Linked DNA regions of Homo sapiens: regions 1, 3, 4, 5 and 6 are each linked to region 2. Evidence: fine-mapped expression QTL. A gene starts in region 2. Each other region holds a variant in brackets. All regions are shown on one strand. Distances are from middle to middle.

The links. PIP is the estimated chance that this variant, and not a neighbour inherited with it, causes the effect. A credible set is the group of variants that fine-mapping cannot tell apart.
Region 1: its variant is the best candidate, but not a certain one, in a credible set for the expression of INPP5B in subcutaneous fat (GTEx, PIP 0.80).
Region 3: its variant is the best candidate, but not a certain one, in a credible set for the expression of INPP5B in whole blood (TOPMed, PIP 0.77).
Region 4: its variant is the best candidate, but not a certain one, in a credible set for the expression of INPP5B in blood mononuclear cells (TOPMed, PIP 0.51).
Region 5: its variant is the best candidate, but not a certain one, in a credible set for the expression of INPP5B in tibial artery (GTEx, PIP 0.52).
Region 6: its variant is the best candidate, but not a certain one, in a credible set for the expression of INPP5B in lymphoblastoid cells (GEUVADIS, PIP 0.89).

The regions. Positions count from the first base shown.
Region 1 is chr1:37,793,335-37,797,420 of GRCh38, forward strand. It overlaps MANEAL (mannosidase endo-alpha like), which reads left to right and starts at 513. Exons shown (of 4, transcript NM_001113482.2): 1 at 513-1,398; 2 at 2,403-2,512; 3 at 3,410-3,486. The coding sequence starts at 849. RefSeq lists silencers at 420-469, 730-849. The variant C/T (reference allele first, on the strand shown) is at 1,727.
Region 2 is chr1:37,944,700-37,948,785 of GRCh38, forward strand. INPP5B (inositol polyphosphate-5-phosphatase B) reads right to left here and starts at 2,354. Exons shown (of 24, transcript NM_005540.3): 1 at 2,291-2,354; 2 at 1,553-1,635; 3 at 1,057-1,151. The coding sequence starts at 1,609. It overlaps LOC105378651 (a long non-coding RNA gene), which reads left to right. Exons shown (of 5, transcript XR_001737983.3): 5 at 580-928. RefSeq lists enhancers at 2,176-2,705, 2,283-2,522, 3,912-4,086.
Region 3 is chr1:37,853,146-37,857,231 of GRCh38, forward strand. All of the region lies in intron 2 of MTF1 (metal regulatory transcription factor 1), which reads right to left. Among named protein-coding and RNA genes, the nearest start is that of MTF1, 4.4 kb to the right of the region's middle. The variant G/A (reference allele first, on the strand shown) is at 2,313.
Region 4 is chr1:37,921,370-37,925,455 of GRCh38, forward strand. The region is part of intron 7 of INPP5B (inositol polyphosphate-5-phosphatase B); the gene reads right to left. Among named protein-coding and RNA genes, the nearest start is that of INPP5B, 24 kb to the right of the region's middle. The variant G/A (reference allele first, on the strand shown) is at 1,667.
Region 5 is chr1:37,975,300-37,979,385 of GRCh38, forward strand. It overlaps SF3A3 (splicing factor 3a subunit 3), which reads right to left. Exons shown (of 17, transcript NM_006802.4): 10 at 3,689-3,756; 11 at 3,421-3,528; 12 at 1,585-1,654. Among named protein-coding and RNA genes, the nearest start is that of SF3A3, 13 kb to the right of the region's middle. The variant C/T (reference allele first, on the strand shown) is at 2,248.
Region 6 is chr1:37,899,110-37,903,195 of GRCh38, forward strand. The region is part of intron 7 of INPP5B (inositol polyphosphate-5-phosphatase B); the gene reads right to left. It overlaps LOC124904043 (a long non-coding RNA gene), which reads left to right and starts at 4,068. Exons shown (of 4, transcript XR_007065876.1): 1 at 4,068-4,086. RefSeq lists an enhancer at 2,484-2,723. The variant T/C (reference allele first, on the strand shown) is at 2,126.

The sequences.
Region 1 (4,086 bases), 150 kb before region 2:
CCTAGAGCCTCCAGAAAGGAGTGTAACCTGCCAACGCCTTAATTTTGGCTTCGTGAGATTCCAACCAGAGAACTCACTAAGCCACACTGCGACCCGGCAGGCTGGGCAGTGCAGCGAGCTCTGGAGAGTGCGCCCTGACCCGGGGTCCAGGCCCGGTCAGTGTGACCTTGCGCGAGTCACGGTCGTCCTCCGCCCGCCAGGCCCCGGACGGCGTCTGCAGGGTCCGATTCCTGGGGATTTCCCGACGCCCCTTCCCCCGAGGTTCAGGGGCTGCCTGGGGTGCCGGGGAGGGGGGCCGAGGGATGGGGGACCTGGGGCTAGAAGGGTGGCACTGAGACCCGTAGGGAGGGGGCCAGTGAAGTGAGTAAAGGTGGATCGACGAAGAAGGAAATCCTTGGGGAGAGAACCACCGACGCGCGCTTCTTTCCCCCCCCCGCCCCGCCTCCGCCCCCGCCCCCGCCGCGCCGCCTCTCTCCCGCGCTCCGGAAGGCCTGCGTCCCCGCTCCCCAGCCAGGCGCCACCACCTGCCGCCCAGGCAGCCAGGCGACTCTTCTTTCGCGGGTCACGCGGCCTGACTCAGGCCCCTGCTCCTGTGGCCCCGAAACTCGCCGTTCGCTGGGCCTTGCGTTGCACTCGGCGTGCAGTTCCCCCTCGGCTCGCGGCCACTTGGTCCGCGCCGCCTGCGTCCTGTGTGCCGAGCCCGCCCGCACTGCGGGGACAGGCCGGGCGCCGCCCACGCCGCGCTCTGCCGGGCGCACAGTCTGCCTGGGAAGCGCGCGGCCGGGCGGGCGGCCATGGCGCGGCACGCTGGGAGGTAGCGCGGCGGCTGCAGGAGCGCACAGTCGGCCATGGCCCGGCGGCGGCGCCGCGCCTGCATCGCTCTGTTCCTGGTGCTGCTCTTCGCCTTCGGCACCCTCATGGGTCTGCGCACGCTCAAGGCTCCGGACGGACTCCCGGCGCTGGGCCCGGGCCTGGAGCTGGCGCCCTTTGAGCGACGCCCAGAGGGGGCCCCCGCGCCCGCTGCCAGGGCCCCGGCAGCCCCTGCCGCGCCGCCCCCGCCGCCGCCGCCGCCCCGCACCGCGGACCCTGGCGGCTCCCCTGGGCCGGCACCCGCGGAGGCCGAGCCCGCCCCCGTGCAGAGCCTGCGCGTCTACTCGGACCTGCACGCCTTCTACTACTCGTGGTACGGGAGCCCGCGGCGCGAGGGCCACTACATTCACTGGGACCACGTCATGGTGCCGCACTGGGACCCCAAGATCTCGGCCAGCTACCCCCGCGGCCGCCACAGCCCCCCAGACGACTTGGGCTCCAGCTTCTACCCGGAGCTGGGGCCCTACAGCTCCCGGGACCCCGAAGTGCTGCGGGAGCATATGACCCAGCTCAAGGAAGCCGCCATCGGTGAGCGCCCCCCACCCCGGGCGGCCCTGCCCCCCAGCCTCACCCTTCCTCCTTCCCACACCCCAGCTCCCTCTGGTCCTGTCACCGGCCCTTTGGTCCCACTTATCCGCCAGCCTGGCTTCTTAGCTGTTCCCTCCCACTCTCATCCTGGGCCCACCATGCGACACCGCCCCTCCGTCTAGTATTCAGACCCCCCAGCTGGGCCCTTCCATCCCTAACATCCAGGGCCCTTCCCATAGGGCGGAACTGCTAGGAGTTTGCACCAGGAGAGGGAGGCAGAGTCTTCAAATTTGTTGGGCGATGGGAAGTGAGGCCTGGAGTCCTGGCC[C/T]GCAGGTTCTGGGGTTCAGAGGAGTGGAACTTAGGGCGGCCTCTGCTTTCATGGCAGGTACAGGGTAGAGCAGCAGCCGTTCCTGCTTTTGCTGGCTGCAGAGAGGAAAGTGTGCCCGTGTTCCATGAAGGCCTCTGCTCTATTTGCAGTTGGAGGTAGTGTTGGGGGTTTAGAGGCTTTTCATCAAGCACCCAGCTGGAGGGAAGGTCCCAGGGCGCCTCCTTCGTAGGCTATGGAGGGGAGGCTCACTTATTTCGGATTTCGTCACTGAATTTTGCTGGATTTTACAGATGGCCTCTGCTCAGGGCTCTTCTCCATGCGGGACGTTAGGGTTAGGGGTGCTTCTCTTCTTCAGAGGTAGGCCTGTGGCTTCCAGGTGGGTGTGGCACTGTCCTCCCATTCCCTTTGTTCTACTACTTGCTGAGGCAGTCTAAAGCCTGGCTCCCTTCCGGCCTGGCGCGCTACGGTTCCCGCAGGCGCTCCGCTTCAGCACCGCGGGCGTGGACAGCTCCGGGGCGCGAGGCTCTGGGACTCATCTGCAGGAAGTGAACCTGGCAGGAGGCTTGCTTCAGGTTTTTAGGAACCATTTTTGCAATTGGAGATGTTTGTGAGGAAAAAAATCTCTGTTGAGGGGGGTACTGTGTGTCTCTGAAGTGGCCTCTGTGTTGCGTCTCAGGCGTCCTGGTCCTGTCCTGGTACCCACCTGGCATGGCTGATGATAACGGGGAGCCCTCAGATGACCTGGTGCCCGCCATTCTGGACACCGCCCATCAGTACAGCATCCAGGTGAGTCTCCAAGAAGAGGCCACGTGCTCTCTGCCCTATTCTGGAGAGTTGCTCTCCTCCGCCCACAGGGTTAGTGCCTCTACAGAAGTTCTTGGCAGTAGCCCAAAGGGATAACAAATATGTGGCAAGTGTGGTTTTGGGGGAGGGTTCAGATAAATGGTGCCTATGTTGCTCTTAGTTTTTTGAATTCTAAGAAAACTGAGAAAACTAAATATAGGACCAAGAGAAGACTAAATAATTATCACTTTTGTTAAATAATAATAGAGGTTAGGTTGTAAACCCTGGTGGAAAAAGGGTAGGCAAGAGCCAAAGGGACCTGCAGACTCAACTCTCTAGTGGGAGGCAGTGCTGGACCTCGAGGAGTAGGCAGGTGTTCTCAGCAGGTGGGCTCACTTTCAAGAGGAAGGACGGACTGGACGAAGCATTTCCCCACATGTGCCAATCAAGTAAGTCATCCCTTGCTTCTGTGGTGAAGGAAGAAAAATGATAGAGAAAGAAGAAAAGCCCCACTCCCCTATTCCTGAAGAGAATTCCACCACTGACATGTCTAACAGATCACAGCAGTTTTCCACTGACACAGCTTCAGCATACTTATTCCACTGTTTCAGGCAGCTAGCACCAACCACTTGGAGCTGGCACAAGGTTGAAACCTATTAGCCACCCTGTAACAGCCCACCAAAATGATTCCCACATGCCCTGCTGCGGGAGATGGGCAAACTGCTCACCCCTGTTTTGGCCTTCAAGGGCAGCAGCTGCCTTTATCTCTACTGTGCCCACCACTGCCAGGCCCTCTTCTGAACTCAGCCTCTCCTCCAGGCCATGGTTAGATCCTGAGCCTGATATGTTGTGGCCCCTAGATAGACACTCACCTGACCATTACTCCTCTGTTTGTGGCAGGTGGCCTTCCACATCCAACCCTACAAGGGCCGGGATGACATCACTGTACATGACAACATCAAGTACATCATTGACACGTAAGGCTGCTCTGGGGGCCGGGATTTTGGTGGGGATCAAAATGGAGGTAGGGATAGAAGGTTTGGAGGGGCAGGTCAAGAGACACAGGGCATAATGCCTGTGTTTCCCAGCAGCTGTTTTATAGTAAGAGAGTACTGGGCCTAAAGTCAGGCAGCCTGGGTTTCAATTCCTGTCCTGTGGCTTCTAATCTGTGATGAGGCAAGCCTCTTAACCTTTGAGTCTTGTGAGAATCACACGAATTAATATATGTGAAAGTAGCTTCTACAATGTAGGCACCTCATTTATTCATTCAGAAAGTATTGAATGAAGGCCAGGCATGGTGTAATCCCAGCACTTTGGGAGGTCGAGGCAGGCGGATCACTTGAGGTCAGGAGTTCGAGACCAGCCTGACTAACGTGGTGAAACCCCGTCTCTACTAAAAATAAAAAAATTAGCCAGGCGTGGTGGCGCACACCTGTAATCCCAGCTATTCAGGAGGCTGAGGCAGGAAAATCGCTTGAATCTGGGAGGCGGAGGTTGCAGTGAGCCGAGATTGCACCGCTGCACTCCAGCCTGGGTGACAGAGCGAGATTCCATCTCAAAAATAAATAAATAAATAT
Region 2 (4,086 bases):
GCCTCCTGAGTAGCTGAGACTACAGGCATGCACCACAACACCCAGCTAATTTTCTTATTTTTTGTAGAGATGGAGCCGGGGAGCGGGAGGTGGGGCGGGGTAGGGGGGGCGGTCTCGCTATGTTGCCCAAGCTGGTCTCGAACTCCTAGGCTCAAGCAATCTTCCTGCCTCAGCCTCCCAAAGTGTTGGAATTACAAGCATGAGCTACTGCACCTGGCCTAACTCACTTTACTCTTTAATATGGACAAATCGAGGAGTAAAACAACTTGCTCAAGATCATGTGGTTCCACCAGGTGCGGTGGCTCATGCCTAAAATTCCAACACTTTGGGAGGCTGAAGTGGGAGAATGACCTGAGGCCAGGAGTTCCAGCATGCAGCTATGAGTGCACTACTGCACTCCAGCCTGGGTGACAGAAAGAGACCCCGTCTCTAAAAAAAAGATCATGTGAGGCTGGGCACGCTGGCTCATGCCTGTAATCCTAGCACTTTGGGAGGCCAAGGCAGGTGGATAACTTGAGGTCAGGACTTCAAGACCAGCCTGGCCAACGTGGTGAAACCCTGTCTTTACTAAAAATACAGAAATGAGCCAGGCATGGTGGCGGGCACCTCTGTAATACCAGCTCCTCAAGAGGCTGAAGCACGAGAATTGCTTGGACCTGGGACGCAGAGGTTGCAGTGAGCCAAGATCACCCCACTGCACTCCAGCCTGGGCAAAGACCAAGACTCCTTCTCAAAACAAACAAACAATAGATCATGTGGCTTGTTAGTAACAAAGCCTGGGTTTGAACCCAGGCATTTGGACCACGAGGCTCAAGATCTGGACTAGTATGTTAAACTGTCTCTTCTCAAGAAACTTCCTCCTTAGATCTTGAGGATTATGAGTTAGTACGTGTGCAGGGTTTAAAATATAGTGTTCAAAAAATATTAACTATCATTGTGATAATTATTCTAGGAGACTCAGACCCTGCCCTGGAGGGACAGTTGAAGTTCAGCTGGAGGGTGCAGTGATGAACAACCCCATGGCCCAGACAGGTGGGGACCAAGCCCCTCACTCACGCGTGTTCCTGGCCGCCGTGCTCCAGGCGGTAGCGCACGAGTCCCAGGAGGCGGCTCTGCCGGCTGTCCCCCTCACACAGCACACCTTGCACCGCCTGCGGCTCAGAGTCAAGGGAAGACAACCCAGAGGCGAGGCCTCTCCCCACCCAGGCTGTCCCACCTTCCCTCTGTTCCCCTGCCCCCCCAGATTCACTGTGTGGCCTTGGGTGAGCACTCAAACCATGTGCTGAACTAACAGACAAACAGGCTCTCTAAGCCTTCCTTATCTATGAAATGAGGATAATAATCCCCAACTTCATAGGGAGTTAGGAGGATAACTGCGTATTTAAAGCATTTGGCTGAGAGTCCAGGACTCAGTAAGTACTTAGTAAATACTGATTTCCTTCTCCCCTGATGGTTCAGAGGGGCAGGAGAGGGGATAGACACCTCGACACCTTCCATTCCTCTTCCCAAGGCCAGGGCAGGCTCAGGGCCGCAGTTAGCACAGGAAGGATATGATGACGCAGTATTCCCCCTCAGCCAGCGTCTCCTGGATTGCCACAGACTGGTCCATGCTGGCCCCTGCTGAGCGCACACACCCTGTGGGAGGGGAGATAGGAGCCCCGCTTTGGTCAACAAGTTACGCATGGGGTGGTGGAGCTGCCTCAGAGGGGTTGGGGGCAGGAGGGAGGGGCCTTTGCAGAGGGAGATGGTACCGGGGAGGCCTGATCCTCCTCCTCCTCCTCTTTGTCCTCCCTAGAATAGGCCTTTCAGTTTTTAGGGATAGGGGTCCAGTCCCTTTGCCCCGCTGGGATCTACAGTTTGCTATACTGCCTTTGTCTGGGAGGGCATCCAGTTGCTCTTGAGTGTGGTCTATCCTTGTTGGAAGTGGGGTACGTGGATTGGAGAAGGGGACCTAGTCCCTTTGCTCCTAGGACATGGCTCTTCCTCTCTTTTGGGGACAGTTTTTGTTCTGCTAGCGCCTCTCTGGGAGGTGTCAGTGGTGTGTCCATGTGGGGTTCAGGGAACATCCCCTTACTGTCATTCAGGAGGGTCCCATTCCTCTTTCCTTGGAGACAGGAAGTGTCCCATTGCTGCTTGCCCTTCACCCCCGCCCCAGCAGGCCCATTGCATCAGCTGCAGGCCGGGGGTTGGGGGGTGTCCCAGCCCTCAGCTTGCCCACTCCCTCCTGCCCAGCCCTGCCCTGGCTTTCCTGCTCTGCTCCCACCCACAGCTCCCTGACATTGTCACCTACCTCCTGAGCTGTCACCACAGGGCGCACGGGACTCCGCTGCCCCAGGTTCCGGGACAGTGACTACATTTCCCAACAGCCCCTGCGCCACATGGTGGTCAGTCAGCCTGCAAGTCCCAGCATGCCCGAGTCAATCGTGGGGTGGGGAGTCTCTCCATCCGTGTTAACCCCTTAGGCCCTGGGGTACACTGGGCTTCCTATACCAGAAAGGTTTTCTAATGATTGCCCTCACTCCCATCCCCAGCCCTCTAGGTCATGGGGCCAGAGCTTCCCACCCAGAAGGAAGATGGTCACATTTTATCTTAGGGGAAGAATATAATGCATTTTTATTTTCTCCTTAGTTCCATCCTCAGCTCTTCTCACTCCAGGGTAGACAACCCGGACCTCTACTGAAACTCTTCCCCTAAAATAACTACCTTCTCCTGGTTTAATGGAGGGAGAACCAGACTATGAAGAACCATTATGTCCATTTTCCAGGTGGAGAAACTGAGCCTTGGATAGGTTAAGCAGTTTGACATTAAGTCCTGCAGCTAGCAGGTGGCAACACTGGGACTCCACTGAAAGTCTGACTGCAACTCCTGGGCCATTTATACCGCTACACACTGCCCTATTTCCTCCCTTAGCCCCACCCAGCCCTCCTGCCACACAGGGCTGTTTGAGGCTACTGGGTGTGAACGCACTTTATAAAGGGTATGACACTGTTCCTGTCCGGCAACGTCCTTCCCCTGATCCGCCTGGCTTTGTGACCTTGGCCAAGACCTTTCTTCCCTTGGGACTCAATTTCCCCATCTAAGATAAGGAGGTTACCCAAGATGGACAAAAAGAGCCAGCACAGGGACTGGGCACAGTGGCTCATGTCTGTAATCCCGGCACTTTGGAAGGCCAAGGAGGGAGGATCGCTTGAGGCCAGGAGTTTGAGACCCCATCTCTAAAAAAAAATTTTTTTAAATTTAGCCGGGTATGGTGGTGCATGCCTGTAGTCCCAGCTACTTGGGAGGCTGAGGTGGGAGGATTGCTTGAGCCCAGGAGTTCAAGGCTGCAGTGAGCTGTGATTGCTCACCCAGCTCAGATAAGGAATGCTAGGATCATTCTCACTTGGCCTATTGGCTGTTTAATTAAGCTGTAAGCTCCCGTTGGACAGGACTATGCCTTTTCATCAACATACCAGCAGTTTCTGGCACACAGTTATCTATGGAGTTAGTGAATTACTTTCTGAACTATTTTAATAAATACACCTTCTCTCAAGCTTTGGCCCAAACTGAAGGAATGGGCCTTCAGTGCTGGGGAGGGGGTGACTGTTGTGACTTGTGAACAGTTTCCCTTCCTCTTTCCCCAAGTGAAGTGGCCATCCTAATGACCAGTTCAACTTTGCATATGTAAACCCCTTCCAGAAACAGTCGTTGCCTTCTTCTCAATCCATTTCTTTTCCTGGAAACATCCACAGCACAAATGGAGCTCAAGTTTATTTGAATTCAGTGTCTAAGTCATGTGGACGATGAGGGGAAAGGGGATTGACTCAGACCCTTAGGATCAAGGGGTGGGGTCACTGCAGGGAAGCAGAGGAACCCCAATTCCAGCCCTGCTCTAGTGTCAAAGCCTGGCGAGGAGGGTCTGGGCAAAGTAGATGGGGCTGTGTGCTTTTTATGATGAAGAAACTGTCCCTGCAGGATTTGGGGGTCCTCCCACTGGGTGGGGGTCAGGCAGGAGGTTTTCTGTTTTTCCAGACAAACCCTATCCTCTCCCTGAGATTAGGGCTGAGGGCCTGCCCCCTTGGGGGGTTCCATGGTCAGGCCTAGGCC
Region 3 (4,086 bases), 92 kb before region 2:
CTCTGCTGCCAGACCAATCCTTCTAAAATGCTACTCTAACCACATTCTCTATCTAACCACTCTAGCCTTGGCTTAGACACCTCCAATGGTTTCCCACCATTTCTAGGAGAGTACAGTTCAAAACCCATAGAAGGTTACCACTGCCTTCCATGTTTGGATCTTTGCTATCTTTCCATCCTTATCTCCTTCTACTACTATGTTCTAGTCTAAGGGTCAGCACACTACAGCCAGTGAACCAAATCCACCCCACTGCCTGTTTTTGTAAAGTCTTATCAGAACTTGGCCATGTTCATTCTTTATGTATTGTCTATGGCTGCTTTTGTGCTACAATGGAAGAATGGAGTAGCTCCAACAGAGACCTTATAGCCTGCAAAGCCCAGAATATTTACTATTTAGCCCTAAGCAGAAAAAAGTGTGCTGACTCTGTTGTAACAGGACAACTGGCTATTCCCTGAAAATGGCCTGTTTCCCACCTGCATTCCTTGTTTCATGCTGTTCCTCTCTCTTGGAAAAACCTTCTCCTGCTTTTTTCCTAAATTGTATGTATTCTTTAAGACCAGCTCAAACGCCACCTTTTTCACAAAGACTTCCCTGATCCCAGAATTAAGGGTGAGCTTCCCTGTGCTCACAGTGCAATATTTGTACCTCTCCTTCACATTTACCACACTGTGTTTGCTGCTATGATTATTGGTGTAAACAATTTCTGCTTCTATGCTATAAATCGACTACCACAATCATTTGCAACATCCACAGAGCATAACAGCATTTTGCTTTATAAATGTTTGTTGAGTTGAAATGAACCCCCCTACAAGCTCAAATATTGGACTGAAACCAACAAGATAAAATTTCATAGGGAGATATTTTTATTTTTTATTTTTTGAGATGGAGTTTTGCTCTTGTTGCCCAGGCTGGAGTGCAGTGGCACCATCTTGGCTCATTGCAACCTCCACCTCCCGGGTTCAAGCAATTCCCCTGCCTCAGTCTCCAGAGTAGCTGGGATTACAGGCGTCTGCCACCACGCCCGGCTAATTTTTTGTATTTTTAATAGACACAGGGTTTCATTGTGTTGGCCAGGCTAGTCTCGAACTCCTGACCTCAGGTGATCCACCAGCCTTGGCCTCCCAAAGTGTTGGGATTACAGGCGTGAGCCACCATGTCCAGCCGGGAGATATTCTTAATAAGGCTTACATGCAGGTCTCCATTTTCATTTTTGTTAGATCTGACAGCTGCATACATGAGAATAATCTAGAGCAGGGTTTCTCAATCCCAGCACTATCACTATTTTGGGCCAGTTCTTTGTTGTAGGGGGCTGTCCTGTGCACTGTAAAACATTTAACAATGTCTTTAACCTCTACCCACTAGATTCCAGTATCGCCTCCACAGTATGACAATACAAAATGTTTCTAGACATTGCCAAACATCTCCTGAGGGCAAAGCTGCCCGCAGTTAAGAAGCACTACTCTAGAAATTTCCAACTATAAGCTAACAGTAAGATGTTGCTGATAAAATGTAGACTATATAGTAATTGTAGTACAGTGTCCAGATTAAGAGATAAGAGCCATACTGTATTCAGTGCTAGTTGACTCACACTTATGAGACTGCGCTCAACTGCAGATTTTAAAAGGACTCTGGGGCCGGGCGCGGTGGCTCATGCCTGTAATCCCAGCACTTTGGGAGGCCAAGGCAGGCATATCCCCTGAGGTCAGGAGTTCGAGATCAGCCTGACCAACATGGAGAAACCCTGTCTCTACTAAAAATACAAAATTAGCTGGGTGTGGTAGCGCATGCCTGTAATCCCAGCTACTTGGGAGGCTGAGGCAGGAGAATCGCTTGAACCTGGGAGGCGGAGGTTGCAGTGAGCCGGGATCACGCCACTGCACTCCAGCCTGGGCAACAACAGCAAAACTCCATCTCAAAAAAAGAAGAAAAAAAGGACCTTGGAAAACTGGAATTCATATAATCAAAGGTGACTAGGCTGATGAGAGACTGGGGAAAATGTCACAGAGGGACATTTAAGTAAATGGAGGTGGTTAGCCTGTACAAGAGGAAGAAAAATCCATGATCTTCAAATAGCTGATGGACTGTTCTGTGGGAGAAAGTTTACTCAGGAAGGCAGATCTAGAACCAGTGGGCAGCACCTGCAGAAAGGCAGGTTTTGGTTCTATACAAGTAAAAGCTTTCTAACAATCAGAGCTGGCTAACAAATGTATTGGGTTGGGGTATGAAACACTCTGCTCTTGTTGTTCTGGATGTCTTCAAGCAGAAACAAGATTAACTGATGTCAGGGATGCCATAGGGAGATTTCTGCATAG[G/A]GTAGGAGGTGGGACAAGATGGTCTCTCTAAGGCTAGCAAAGGAAAAGTGATATGCCATCAATAAGCCATATGCAATTTTAAGACCTCAACCACAGCAAAAAAGATATTCCTTGCTAAATCATTCACCCTATTTCTGTTTGGTAACATCTTAGTCCTTGGTACTGTAACTACTAGTGACTTATTTTTTTCTAATTGACCTGTAATAGTTCCTGGATGGGCCGGGCATGGTGGTTCATGCCTGTAATCCCAGCACTTTGGAAGGCCAAGGCAGGTGGATCACCTGAGGTCAAGAGTTCGAGACCAGCCTGGCTAACATGGTGAAACCTCATTTCTACTAAAAATTCAAAAAATTAGCTGGGCATGGTGGTGCGTGCCTGTAATCCCAGCTACTCAGGAGGCTGAGGCAGGAGAATTGCTAGAACCCAGGAGGCAGAGGTTGCAGTGAGCCAAGATCGCACCACTGCACTCCAGCTTAGGCAACAAGAGTGAAACTCCATCTCAAAAAAAAAAATAGTTCCTAGATAATGTATATCACTACCTTTAAACCAGAACTTTTATTCTGCTAATAATAACCACTAATATAATTTGTAAAATGCTTTACAGTTTTCAAAACATCCTGACATGCATTAGCTTACTCACATTAGCTAAACATGAAAATGAAAACTTATTTTAGATAACCTGCTCTCATTTACTGTCTCTTGCCTGAATTTCCTTTTTTTTTTTTTTTTTTTTTTTTTGAGACTGAGTCTCTCTCTCTCATCCAGCCTGGAGTGCAGTGGCACGATCTTGGCTCCCTGCCACCTCCACCTCCCAGATTCAAGTAATTCCCCTGCCTCAGCTTCCCAAATAGCTGGGATTACAGGCACCCGCCACTATGCCTGGCTAATTTTTCTATTTTTAGTACAGATGGAGTTTCACCATGTTGGCCAGGGTGCTCTTAACCTCAGGTGATCCACCTGCCTCGGCCTCCCAAAGTGCTGGGATTACAGAAAGTGTTAGGATTACAGGCATGAGCCACTGTGCCCAGCCTGAATTTCTTTCTTTTTTTTTTTTTTTTTTTAGATGGAGTCTCACTCTATCGCCCAGGCTGGAGTACAGTGGCATGATCTCGGCTCACTGCAACCTCTGCCTCCCGGGTCCAAGTGATTCTCCTGCCTCAGCCTCCTGAGTAGCTGGGATTACAGCCATGTGCCACCAAGCCTGGCTAATTTTTGTATTTTTAGCAGAGACAGGGTTTCACCATGTTGGCCAGGCTGCTCTCGAACTCCTGACCTCAAATGATCCACCCGCCTCAGCCTCCCAAAGTGCTGGGATTACAGGCGTGTGCCACTGTGAAATAAAAGTTCATTAAACATTCACTAAGATAATAAAACATATTCCAGCAGATACTCATCTCTAAAACAAATCATTTAAACACAACCAGGAGATAAGCCAAATATAGTTATTTCTTCATCAAATAAGCAAACTCCAGTTATTTCCCTGTAGATAAGCTAAATAGTTATTTTAGCACCAGAAACATGGGTCTACTTAAGTGAAATTTCTGTTTTATTTATGATTTGGGGAAGGAAATTCGAGAAATTACAATTTGATATTCCCAAATTTCAATGTGGCTATACAAACCAAAAGTTCCAGAAGCAATCACAACAAAACCTGAGGCATATGTTGTTGATAGCAAAACTACTTAAGTCCTAACCCCATGCACTCCTTTACTCCCCAGCTAAAATTTGCACCAAGAATTTTGTAAGGACTTGCCCCAAAACCAAACTAGGCCCT
Region 4 (4,086 bases), 23 kb before region 2:
CACCTGGCATTGAAAAGAATGGAAAAAATCCATTTTTTCCAGTTCAGCTTTGCCACCATCCCAAATTGTTTTGTTACTTTCTTCAAAGTTAAATAACCATGTTTAGTTTTCTTTTTTCATTTCTTTTACATTTCTCAAATATCTCACAGCTTTAAAAAGAAGTGCCATAGATTCTATCATTTAAAATGAACACAGGGCCAGGCGCAGTGCCTCACGCCTATTATCTCCACACTTTGGGAGGCTGAGGTGGGAGGATCACCTGAGGTCAGGAGTTCGAGACCAGTCTGGCCAACGTGGTGAAACCCTGTCTCTACTAAAAATACAAAAATTTTTTAAAAATAATAATGAATAAAATAAAGACCAGGCGTGGTGGCTCACGCCTGTAATCCTAGCACTTTGGGAAGCCAAGGCAGGTGGATCACCTGAGGTCAGGAGTTCGAGACTAGCCAGGCCAACATAGCAAAACTCCGTCTCTACTAATACAAAACTTAGCCAGGCGTGGTGGCGGGCACCTGTAACGGGCTTGCTGGCGAGCGCCTGTAATCCCAGCTACTCAGGAGGTTGAGGCAGGAGAACTGCTTGAACCCAGGAGGTGGAAGCTGCAATGAGCCGAGATCATGCCACTGCACTCCAGCCTGGGCAACAGAGCAAGACTGTCTCAAAAAACTAAAAATAAATAAAAATGAGCTGGGTGTGGTGGCAGACACCTGTAGTCCTGGCTACGTAGGAGGCTGAGGCAGGAGAACCACTTGAACATGGGAGGTGAAGGTTGCAGTGAGTTGAGATCATGCCACTGCACTTTAGCCTAGGTGACAGAGCTAGAATCTGTCTCAAAAAAATGAAAATAAAAATAATAAAAATAAATAAAAGTTAGCCAGACATGGTGGCACATGTCTGTAGTCCCAGCTACTTGGGAGGCTGAGACAGGAGAACTGCTTGAACCTGGGAGGTGGATGTTAAGGTGAGTCGAGATCATGTCACTGCACTCCAGCCTGGGTGACAGAGTGAACTCCGTCTCAAAAAATGAAATAAGCTGGGCTCCGTTTCAAAAAATGAAATAAGCCAGGCGCGGTGGCTCACACCTGTAATCCCAGCACTTTGGGAGGCCGAGGTCAGGAGATTGAGACCATTCTGGCTAACACGGTGAAACCCCATCTCTACTAAAAAATACAAAAAACTAGCCGGGCATGGTGGCAGGCGCCTGTAGTCCCAGCTACTTGGGAGGCTGAGGCAGAAGAATGGCATGAACCCAGGAGGCGGAGCTTGCAGTGAGCCAAGATCGCACCACTGCAGTCCAGCCTGGGTGACACAGCGAGACTCCGTCTCAAAAAAATAAATAAAATAAAATAAAATAAAATGAACACAGACATCTCTAAAAACACATCTCATGCCAAGCAAACCTGTAAGTTCTAGACTGGAAATCCAATTTGCACCCTGTGCAAATCCAATTTAGGCTGGCAAGGACTAAATATGACCAGTTTAGCTTTCAAGGAGGAAGACTACAGTGCAATTACTTTACGGCAACAGGTTGGTTAGTGGTGATAGGCCCCTGGAGAGATGACTTGAATTTTTCCTTCTCAGGCTTCCCTTCAGTGGGCCTTCTGTGAACTGTCTGTGGTCTGGTGATAAAGCTAAAAGAGAAGTGGGCAAGAGCAAACCAGGAAGC[G/A]GGGAGGGCAACACAGAGATGCAGAGCATGCTCAAAGAGGAAGGGGGCAGGAGTTGTTGAGGCCACAAAGCACCTTGGGCTAGAAATTGTATGGGTCTCTACAATTCAACCAGAGACAGACATTTTTTGAGCACCTACTGATGTACAAGGCATTCGGCTGTCATTTGGGAAGGAGAGAGAATGCAAAATGCTAAAAGCAGCAAGTTCAAGCTTACAAAAATGTAGCTGAATGAGAAGTCAACAAATAGGTGAAAAAGTACAGGGCTTTATCCAGAAATAATAAGCAGTCAAGTTTGAAGTAAAAGGAAATGAAGATAAGTTGTAGCAGATAAGACCAGACAGAGAAGCAGGCTGAGGTCAGGCAGTGCAGGACTTGACCACTATACTAAGGAATTTGAGCTTTATTCTATAGGCAACAGGGAGTGGTACAATATTGAAGTTCACATACAAAATAGTAGAATACGATCAAAGTTATGTTCTAAGGAGATCCCTAAAGGAGAGGGAAACTTGAGGTTGGGAAGACTTACAAGAAGACTACTGCAACAGTTCAGCTAAGAGGATACCAACATGAATAAGGGGGATTTTGAAATGTGGGTAGATAGGAGAGGCACTGCAGAAAAAAAAAAATGAACAGAATTTGCTTATTAGACATGAGAGCAGAGGGAAGAGTCAAGGATACCCTGAGGTTGTTAGTGACTGCATTCAGAAATATGAAAATGGAGGGAGGAAAGGAGTAAGTGCAGTTCTTTTTTTTTTTTGAGATGGAGTCTCGCTGTGTCGCCCAGGCTGGAGTGCAGTGGCGTGATCTCTGCTCACTGCAACCTCTGCCTCCAGGGTTCAAGTGATTCTTCTGTCTCAGCTTCCCAAGTGGCACGCAGATTACAGACGCAAGCCACCACACCTGGCTAATTTTTGTATTTTTAGTAAAGACAGGTTTTCACCATGTTGGCCAGGCTGGTCTCAAACTCCTGACCTCAGGTGATCCACCTGCCTCAGCCTCCCAAAGTGCTGAGATTACAGGCCTGAGCCACTGTGCCCAGCCAATGCAGTTCTTATCAGGAAGAAATCCCCCTAGGATAGACCCTGAAGACAGCAGCCAGGTTCTCAGTTCTCAGAGGTGAGCATTTACCATTTCTTTTTCTTTTTTTTTTTTGAGACAGAGTCTCGCTCTTGCCCAGGCTGGAGTGCAGTGGCGTGATCTCGGCTCACTGCAACCTCCACCTCTGGGGTTCAAGCGATTCTCGTACCTCAGCCTCTTGACTAGCTGGGACTACAGGCATGTGCCACCCTGCCGGGCTAATTTTTGTATTTTTAGTAGAAACAGGGTTTCGCCATGTTGACCAGGCTGATCTCAAACTCCTGGCCTCAAGTGACCCGCCCACCTCAGCCTCCCAAAGTGCTGGGATTACAGGCATGAGCCACCGCTGCTGGCCAGCATTTCCCATTTCTAATTGTATTTCCCAAATGAAAGCACGTCTAAATAATTAGCATTGCTTAAGTCCTGTGTGACTTTCCAGGAGGCAAACATTCACTCCCATTTTAAAGACATAAGAGGAAAGTTGAGACACACGTTTAATATCGTACAAAGAGGTCAAGCGCGGTGGCTCATGCCTGTAATCCCAGCACTTTGGGAGGCAGAGGCGGGAAGATCACTTGAGGTCAGGAGTTTGAGACCGGCCTGGGCAACACAGGGAGATCTCGTCTCTAAAAACAAAAAGAGGCTGCGCATGGTGGCTCACACCTGTAATGCCAGCACTTTGGGAGGCCAAGGCAGGCTGAATCACTTGAGGTCAGGAGTTCAAGACCAGCCTGGCCAACATGGTGAAACCCTGTCTCTACTAAAAATATAAAAATTAGTCCAGGCATGATGGCTCACGCCTATAATCCCAGCACTTTGGGAGGCCAAGGTGGGCAGATCACCTGAAATCAGGAGTTCAAGATCAGCCTGGCCAACATGTTGAAACCCCGTCTTTACTGAAAATACAAAGAGTAGCCAGACATGTTAGCACATGCCTGTAATCTCAGCTACTTGGGAGGCTGAGGCAGGAGAACTGCTTAAACCCAGGAGGTGGAGGCTGCAGTGAGCAGAGATCACACCACTGCACTCCAGCCTGGGTGACAGAGTGAGACTCCGTCTCAAAAAAATAAAATAAAATAAAAATAAAAATAAATAAAAACAAAAAGAGAAAGTAATAGTGCACCAAGGAACCATGAAGAAAAGAAAAAGAAAAATGTCCAGGCCTCTTGACATCCACTTTGTTTAAATTCTCATCATTGGCATTCCAAGAAAGAAAGTCTCTTCTCATTCATATTTGCTAGCTTCAGTTCATGTATGGATCACCAATAACAAAACTGTTAGAGCGTAATTTATTTTATATATTTATCTATTTAAATTTAGAGATATCACTATGTTGCCCAGG
Region 5 (4,086 bases), 31 kb after region 2:
GAGGCCAGGAATTCAAGACCAGCCTGGCCAACAAGACAAAACCCTGTCTCTACCAAAAATACAAAAATTAGCCAGGTGTGGTGGCACACACCTGTAGTCCCAGCTACCAGGGAGGCTGAGGCACAGGAATCACTTGAACCCAGGAGGCGGAGGTTGCAGTGAGCTGAGATCCCGCCACTGCACTCCAGCCTGGGTGACAGAGTGAGATACTATTTCAAAAAAAAAAAAGAGGGAGAAAGTGGTGGACAAATCTCATGTCAAGGGCATGAGTGGCCTCCCAGCCACTCACAAGACTGGCAATTCAGCCTGCTGTCCACACTAGCACAGCCCAAGTTCACAGCGGAGAATATATCTCTCCAATGTCCAATGTCTAGCTAGCCTTTTACTGAAAGCAGTCATAACAGAATCACAGGTGACTAGTTCTACAGCTATTATACGAATGGTCCTCAAAGGCCGAATGAAAATGTCCACGGCAATTAACAAAAATATGTGAACAAGCTATCTGATCCAGAGCCATCCACTCAACGGACCATGCGAGTATGTGTAAAGGGAAAGGCTCTGAGAGTTAAAAATTGGGCTGGGCGCGGTGGCTCACGCCTGTAATCCCAGCACTTTGGGAGGCCGAGGCAAGCGGATCACGAGGTCAGGATTTCGAGACCAGCCTGACCAATATGGTGAAACCCTGTCTCTACTAAAAATACAAAAAACTAGTCGGGCGTGGTGGCGCATGCCTGTAGTCCCAGCTAGTCAGGAGGCTGAGGCAGGAGACTTGCTTGAACCCTGGAGGTGGAGGTTGCAGTGAGCCCGGATTACACCACTGTACTCCAGCCTGGGTGACAGAGCAAGACTCTGTCTCAAAAAAAAAAAAAAAACTGTACACAGCAGACACAATCAGAAAGGCTGGTCTTCTGAAGGACTCCAGAGACACTGATCATCTTTTCTGGATGAGTGCTGCCCTTTCTTCCACTTTTTCTTCCTGGAAAGAGATTTCTTTTCCTCCTACTCCTCTCCCTGCTTTCTCTCTGAGACAAGCATACTGGTCAGGCTAGGCCTTTCTCTACCCCAACCCACACTTCAGCTCCTCCTGAAATATTCAAGAACATTCACTGCCAGCTTTGTACTAATAATATTCTAGCCCTACTAAGTTTCTCATAATCTTATGAACATGTAAGTTGACTTACATGAGATGACTTATGAAAATGCCTTTTCATAAGTCATAACTGAAAGGCCACTTTGAGTAGCCTTTCTGTTACTTGCCCTTTGAGTGTCTGCTTTGTGGGCTACTCCTGAGTATTTTCTAAAGCTCAGGCACAGAATCTGCACTATTCTGGACATTATATTGTGAGGGGACTCTATTCTCCATGACTGGCTTTATGGGAATTGGGCAACTTTGGGAGTATCATCTAACAACAGAATAGGAACTTACTGAAGAGCCTTGTACCCTGACCTCTATTTTGTGCCATACTAGTTTATCAGCTATCCACTCCTCTTTTGAACCTAATGAAAAAGTATCTTCTGTGAGTTCCTCTCCCTTTAACTCCTGTGCTTTATACCATTTTCCACTTTCAGCAGTCAGTCACTTACCCCGAGAATCTCTACATATTCATAGATCTGGGCTTCTAGAAAAGCAATGTCTTTGTTCCTTTCAGTGTCTCTGAGAAAAAGAAACAAGCTGTTTCACTCAAGGATTCTCTCATCCATTGTTTTGTTCCCTATATCTGGGAACATTTATTGCACAACTGCATTAAAAATTATAAGCACATGAGAAATACGATGCTATGAAAGCAAATGCTCTGTTCATCTCAGGACTCTCTGACAAATACTGAGGGTATTTCTCAGAATGCATGGAGGCTTCCTCTATGACCTCACTTAGAAGATGAAGGACACATCAAGACCGCTTACATTTCCATCATTATAATCTACAAAGGAAATGTGGTATATAAGAGCAAGCTCTGCAGCAGGTAGACCTAGGCCCAAATCCTGACTCTGCTACTTAGAACTATGAGAGAGTGGACACATTCCATAACTTTTCTGAGTCCTTATCTGCAAAAACTCAGGATAACAACTAATTTTCTGGGTTGTTGTGAGAATTAGAAAAAAACGTACATTAAGAAAATACTGGGCCAGGCTCGGTGGCTCATGCCTGTAATCCCAGCATTTTGGGAGGCTGAGGCTGGCGATCACTTGAGGTTGGGAGTTTGTGACCAACCTCGCCAACATGGTGAAACCCTCTCTCTACTAAAAATA[C/T]AAAAATTAGCTGGGCACGGTGGCTCACATGCCTGTAATCCCACCACTGTGGGAGGCTGAGGCAGGTGGATCACCTGAGGTCAGGAGTTCATGACCAGCCTGGCCAACATGGTGAAACCCCGTCTCTACTAAAAATACAAAAACTAGCCAGGCATGGTGGCGCACTCTGGTAATCTCAGCTACTCGGGAGAGTGAGGCAGGAAAATCGCTTCAAGCAGGGCGGTGGAGGTTGCAGCGAGCCGAGATTGCGCCACTGCACTTGAGCCTGGGTGACAGAGGAAGACTCCGTCTCAAAAACAAACAAACAAAAAACACACAAAAATTAGCCAATGTGGTGTTGCACATCTGTAATCCCAGCTACTCGGGAGGCTGAGGCAGCAGAATCACTTGAACCCAGAAGGCGGAGTTTGCAGTGAGCCGAGATTGTGCCACTGCACTCCAGCCTGGGCAACAGAGCGAGATTCCATCTCAAAAAAGAAAAAAACAAACAAACAAAAAAAACAACCCTGGGTCGGGCACGGTGGCTCGCGCCTATAATCGCAGCACTTTGGGAGGCCAAGGCAGGTGGATCACTTAAGCTCAGGAGTTGCAGACCAGCCTGGCTAACATGATGAAACCCCATCTCTACTAAAAATACAAAAAATCAGCCATGTGTGGTGGTGCGTGCCTGTAGTCCCAGCTACTCAGGAGGCTGAGGCAGGAAAATCTTTTGAACCCAGGAGGTGGACGTTCCAGTGAGCTGAGATTGCACCACTGCACTCCAGCTTGGGCAACAGAGTGAGACTGTCTCAAAAAAAAAAAAAAAGAAAAAAGAAAATACCTTGTATAAGTATGTAGCTCAAGAATTAGATTCAACTTTACCAAAAATAAGCTTAGAAAAATAGGTTTTGAACCTATTTAGCCTTTTAGCCTCCATAACCTATTAAAGGTGCCATGAATATGGTTTCAAATTTAGAAACTTGATGTGCTCTCAATCAGATGAATACAGACGGTCCTTGGTTTATATTAACAGTGATAGTACTCTCTGCTATTAGCAGAGATAAAGAGCAGACTGGATCTCTGTCAACCAATAACGGAGATAAAGCAGGCTTTAAAGTCTCCACTGTGGTTAAAAATTCTGCATGGGAATAACATTTAAAAGCCACAAGCAGCAGTGCTACCCCAGCCACTCACCGCTTGGTGCCCTTTGACTTGGGATTTTTGGCAAACAAAGAGGTATCAAGTGACTCCAGGGACTTTCCTTTGGTACTGAATAGTCTCTGGGCTCGCTCTTCTAGGGTCCTAAGGAGACAGGACGGCAAAGGATTTTAGGGTTACTTTACCACACAGGCTGGCTTATTTTTGCAGTGTGGAGCAACAAAAAAAATGGAATCAGAGCTACTTAGAAGACTGTGCAAACACACAGTAAATCGATAGTTTTGATAGAAAAACTATTCCTTACCCGCCACATTTCAAGCCTAAAGCTAAGAGAGCAGATTTCAATCTGTCCAAACCCAGAGAAGCCAACTCCTATACAAAGAAGAGAAAAATTACAATATTACATTAACAGATTTTTGGGAAACCCCAAATGCAGGCCAGAGGGTGGGTGTTCCTGAGGCTGTGGCAGGACCACACATTTCACAGCCAATCTAGCAGTAAGTCTAAACTCTCCAGAGGACTGAATCTATAGTTATCTTCAGACTTAACCATACTGATAGTGTTCCATTTACTTTACTACGGCTTAATGTAGTTAGAATAATTATTTCAGTTTCCCAAGTAGTAATTTTTTTCTTTTTGCCTTGCTACTTTCTTTGTAGATGCTTGATCTCAAGAAATAGTGCCTTATCACAACACAACCAT
Region 6 (4,086 bases), 46 kb before region 2:
GGCGGAGGTTGCAGTGAGCCGAGATCGCGCCATTGCACTCCAGCCTGGGCAACAAGAGTGAAACTGTCAAAAAAAAAAAAAAAAAGACTAAAGGCAAGTGGAACTGTACAGAAGCATTGTACTCTAGTTGATAATGGTGTTCCATGGGGGTCCTGATTAACAATTCTGAGGCCAGACGCAGTGGCTCACACCTGTAATCCCAACACCACTTTGGGAGGCCGAGGTGGGCAAATCACCTGAGGTTGGGAGTTCGAGACCAGCCTGACCAACATGGAGAAACCCCGTCTCTACTTAAAATACAAAATAGCCAGCCGTGGTAGCACATGCCTGTAATCCCAGCTACTCAGGAAGGTGAGGCAAGAAAATCGCTTGAACCTGGGAGGCAGAGGTTGCGGTGAGCCGAGATCGCACCATTGCTCTCCAGCCTGGGCAACAAGAGCGAAACTCTGCCTCAAAATAATAATAATAATAATTTTCTCAAGGTACCTCTAGGCCAAAAGGAATCCCTAACAGTTCTACTTAAGTAGTTAGGGCCAAATAAGTATTTAAGTCCTAACAACTTAGTAGCAATTTGAAAAAATAATACACATAAAAAGATTTCCATTTCATCTTTTTTTTTTTTTTTTATGGAGTCTTGCTCTGTCGCCCAGGCTGAAGTGCAGCGGCACGATCTCGGCTCACTGAAGCTTCGCCTGCCGGGTTCACGCCATTCTCCTGCCTCAGCCTCCCGAGTATCCGGGACTACAGGAGTCCGCCACCACACCCAGCTAATTTCTTTGTATTTTTAGTAGAGACGGGGTTTCACCGTGTTAGCCGGGATGATCTCGGTCTCCTGACTTCATGATCCGCCCGCCTTGGCCTCCCAGAGTGCTAGGATTACAGGCGTGAGCCACTGTGCCCGGCTGAACTACGTTCCACTGGAAGTTTGTCTGGTGTTCCCACAGATCTCCATGTTTACCTTGAATTTTTTTTTTTTTTTTTTTTTTGAGACAGCGTCTCACTCACTCTGTCACCCAGGCTAGAGTGCAGTGGGGCAATCTCAGCTCACTGCAGCCTCTGCCTCCTGGGTTCAAGCAATTCTCGTGCTTCAGCCTCCTGCGTAGCTGGGACTACAGGCAGATGCCACCACACCCAGCTAATTTTTGTTTTCGGTTTTTTTTTTTTGAGACAGAGTCTCTCTTGTCACCCAGGATGGAGTGCAATGGTGCGATCTCAACTCACTGCAACCTCCGCCTCCAAGGTTCAAGCGATTCTCCTGCCTCAGCCTCCTGAGTAGCTGGGATTACAGGCACGTGCCACCACACACAGCTAATTTTTGTATTTTTAGTAGAGACGGGGTTTCACAATGTTGGTCAGGCTGGTCTTGAACTCCTGACTTCATGATCCGCCCGCCTCAGCCTCTCAAAGTGCCGGGATTACAGGCGTGAGCCACTGCGCCCGGCTGAACTACTTTCAACTGGAAGTTTGTCTGGTGTTCCCACAGATCTCCATGTTTACTTTGAATTTTTCTTTTTTTTTTTCTTTTTTTTTTTTGAGACAGAGTCTCACTCACTCTGTCACCCAGGCCAGAGTACAGTGGGGTAATCTCAGCTCACTGCAGCCTCTGCCACCTGGGTTCAAGCAATTCTCATACCTCAGCCTCCCGTGTAGCTGGGACTACAGGTAGATGCCACCACACCCAGCTAATTTTTGTTTTCGGTTTTTGTTTGTTTTTTTTTTGAGACAGAGTCTCTCTCTTGTCACCCAGGATGAAGTACAATGGCACGATCTCAACTCATTGCAACCTCTGCCTCCAAGGTTCAAGCGATTCTCCTGCCTCAGCCTCCTGAGTAGCTGGGATTACAGGCATGCGCCACCACACACAGCTAATTTTTGTATTTTTCGTAGAGATGGGATTTCACAATGTTGGTCAGGCTGGTCTCGAACTCCTGACTTGGTGATCCGCCTGCCTCGGCCTCTCAAAGTGCCGGGATTACAGGCATGAGCCACCACGCCCGACCTGATATTAAATCTTATATTTATTCATTATTATTGGATGCCATTTCCACTAAATCGTGAGCTCTGCGAGGCAGGGACTTGGTCTTCTTTCTTCTGCTTCCTTGCCCAGTGCACAGCAGGCACTCTA[T/C]GTATTAAGTACAGCAAAGTATCAGGAAATGTCAGCTGACGTCCAGCTCTACTACTATCTTCCTGTGTGACATGAGAAGTCACTTCTGCTCTTTGGGTCTCGGTTTCTTCATCTATAAAGTGGGGATTTTAAATATCAAAATTTCAGGGGCCTTTACCATATGGAAAGGCACCTGCACTTTTCAAACTAAGGAGTTATGAGGAAGTGCTCTGCTTCTGCATGTCAGTGGTTTCTAATGACTCTCTCAGGATGTTTCTTTAGGTACTTCCTAGCAGACTGAAAGGTCATCTCCTAAGGGCTGACAGTTTGTGGATTCAGTTCACGGCCAGGGGTACATAGCGTACTGATGGGAAAATGGCCCTGCATCTTGTCGATGTCTTCTCACAGGGGGTCTCTCAGGACAGTCCAGCAAGGACCAGAACATCTTCACTCATTACACTACCTATGGAAACTTTAAGGCATGATGTGGGGGATTTCCAGCCACAGGGCGGTCTTCTCGGAATCTCCTCTCTAGAACCTGGCACGGAAGCTGGCTGTCAGAGCAGCTCTTGACCAGATTTGCCATTACACAGCCCCATAGTTCCCCCTCTGGCCACAGCTTCCTGTCTTTTCTCCTCTCCTGCTTCCCTACTCCCACTCTGCCCTTTTTTTAACCTCAGACCTCCAATCTTTTTGTCACCCAATCTAATAGGTGACAATAGATATTTTTCCTTTTTTCCCCATGTTCGGTCACCAAGTCTTATGAATCCTCTATTAAATTTTTTTTTTTTGAGGCAGAGTCTTACTCTGTTGCCCAGGTTGGAGTGTGGTGGCGTGATCTCAGCTCACGGCTCCTCTGTGTCCTGAGTTGAAGCGATTCTCCTGCCTCAGCCTCTCAAGAAAGCTGGGATCACAGGCATGCACCACCACGCCCAGCTAATTTTTGTATTTTTAGTAGAAACGGGGTTTCACCATGTTGGCCATGGTGCTCTCAAACTCCTGACCACAAGTGATCCACCCACCTTGGCCTCCCAAAGTGCTAGGATTACAGGCGTGAGCCACCTCACCCAGCCTCTCTTAAATATTTTTATATCTGACTGTCTTCTCTATCCCTACTGTCATGCCTTAGTTTAGGCCCTTAATGTTTCTGGAAAGCCCACTTAATGATTTCCCTACCTCCATTTTCACCTCCTCCAATTCCATTCTGCCAACACCTAGAAGAAAACACAAATCTGGGTGGGCACAGTGGCTCATGCCTGTAATCCCAAGGCTTTGAGAAGCTGAGGCAGGAGGATTGCTTGAGTCCAGGAATCCAAGACAACATGGTAAAACCCTATTTCTACAAAAAAAAAATTTTTTTTGAGATGTTGTTTCGCTCTTGTTAACCAGGCTGGAGTGCAATGGCACAATCTCGGCTCACTGCAACCTCCACCTCCCGGGTTCAAACTATTCTCCTGCCTCAGCCTCCTGAGTATCTGGGATTACAGGCATGTGCCACCACACCCAGCTAATTTTTGTATTTTTAGTAGAGATGGGATTTCTCCATGTTGGTCAGGCTGGTCTCAAACTCCCGACCTCAGGCGATCGACCCACCTCAGCCTCCCAAAATATATTTTTTCAATTAACTGGGCATGGTAGTGCAAACCTGTAGTCCCAGCTACTCAGGAGGTGAAGGGGGAGGACAGCTTGAGCCAGGGAGCTCGAGGCTGCAGTGAGCCATGATTGTATCACTGCATTCCACTCTGGGCACTACAGTGAGACCCTGTCTCAAAAAAAAAAAAGAAAAGAAAAGAAAACACAAATCTGGACACGTCACTACTGTGGGTAAAATCCCTCAATAACTTAAATCATTTTATCAGAGGCATTTGAACCAGAGCAACTCCATCTTGAATAAGAGCTAGGTAAAATAAGGCTAAGACCTGCTGGGCTGCATTCCCAGAGAGTTAGGCATACTAAGTCACAGGATGAGATATGAGGGTCGG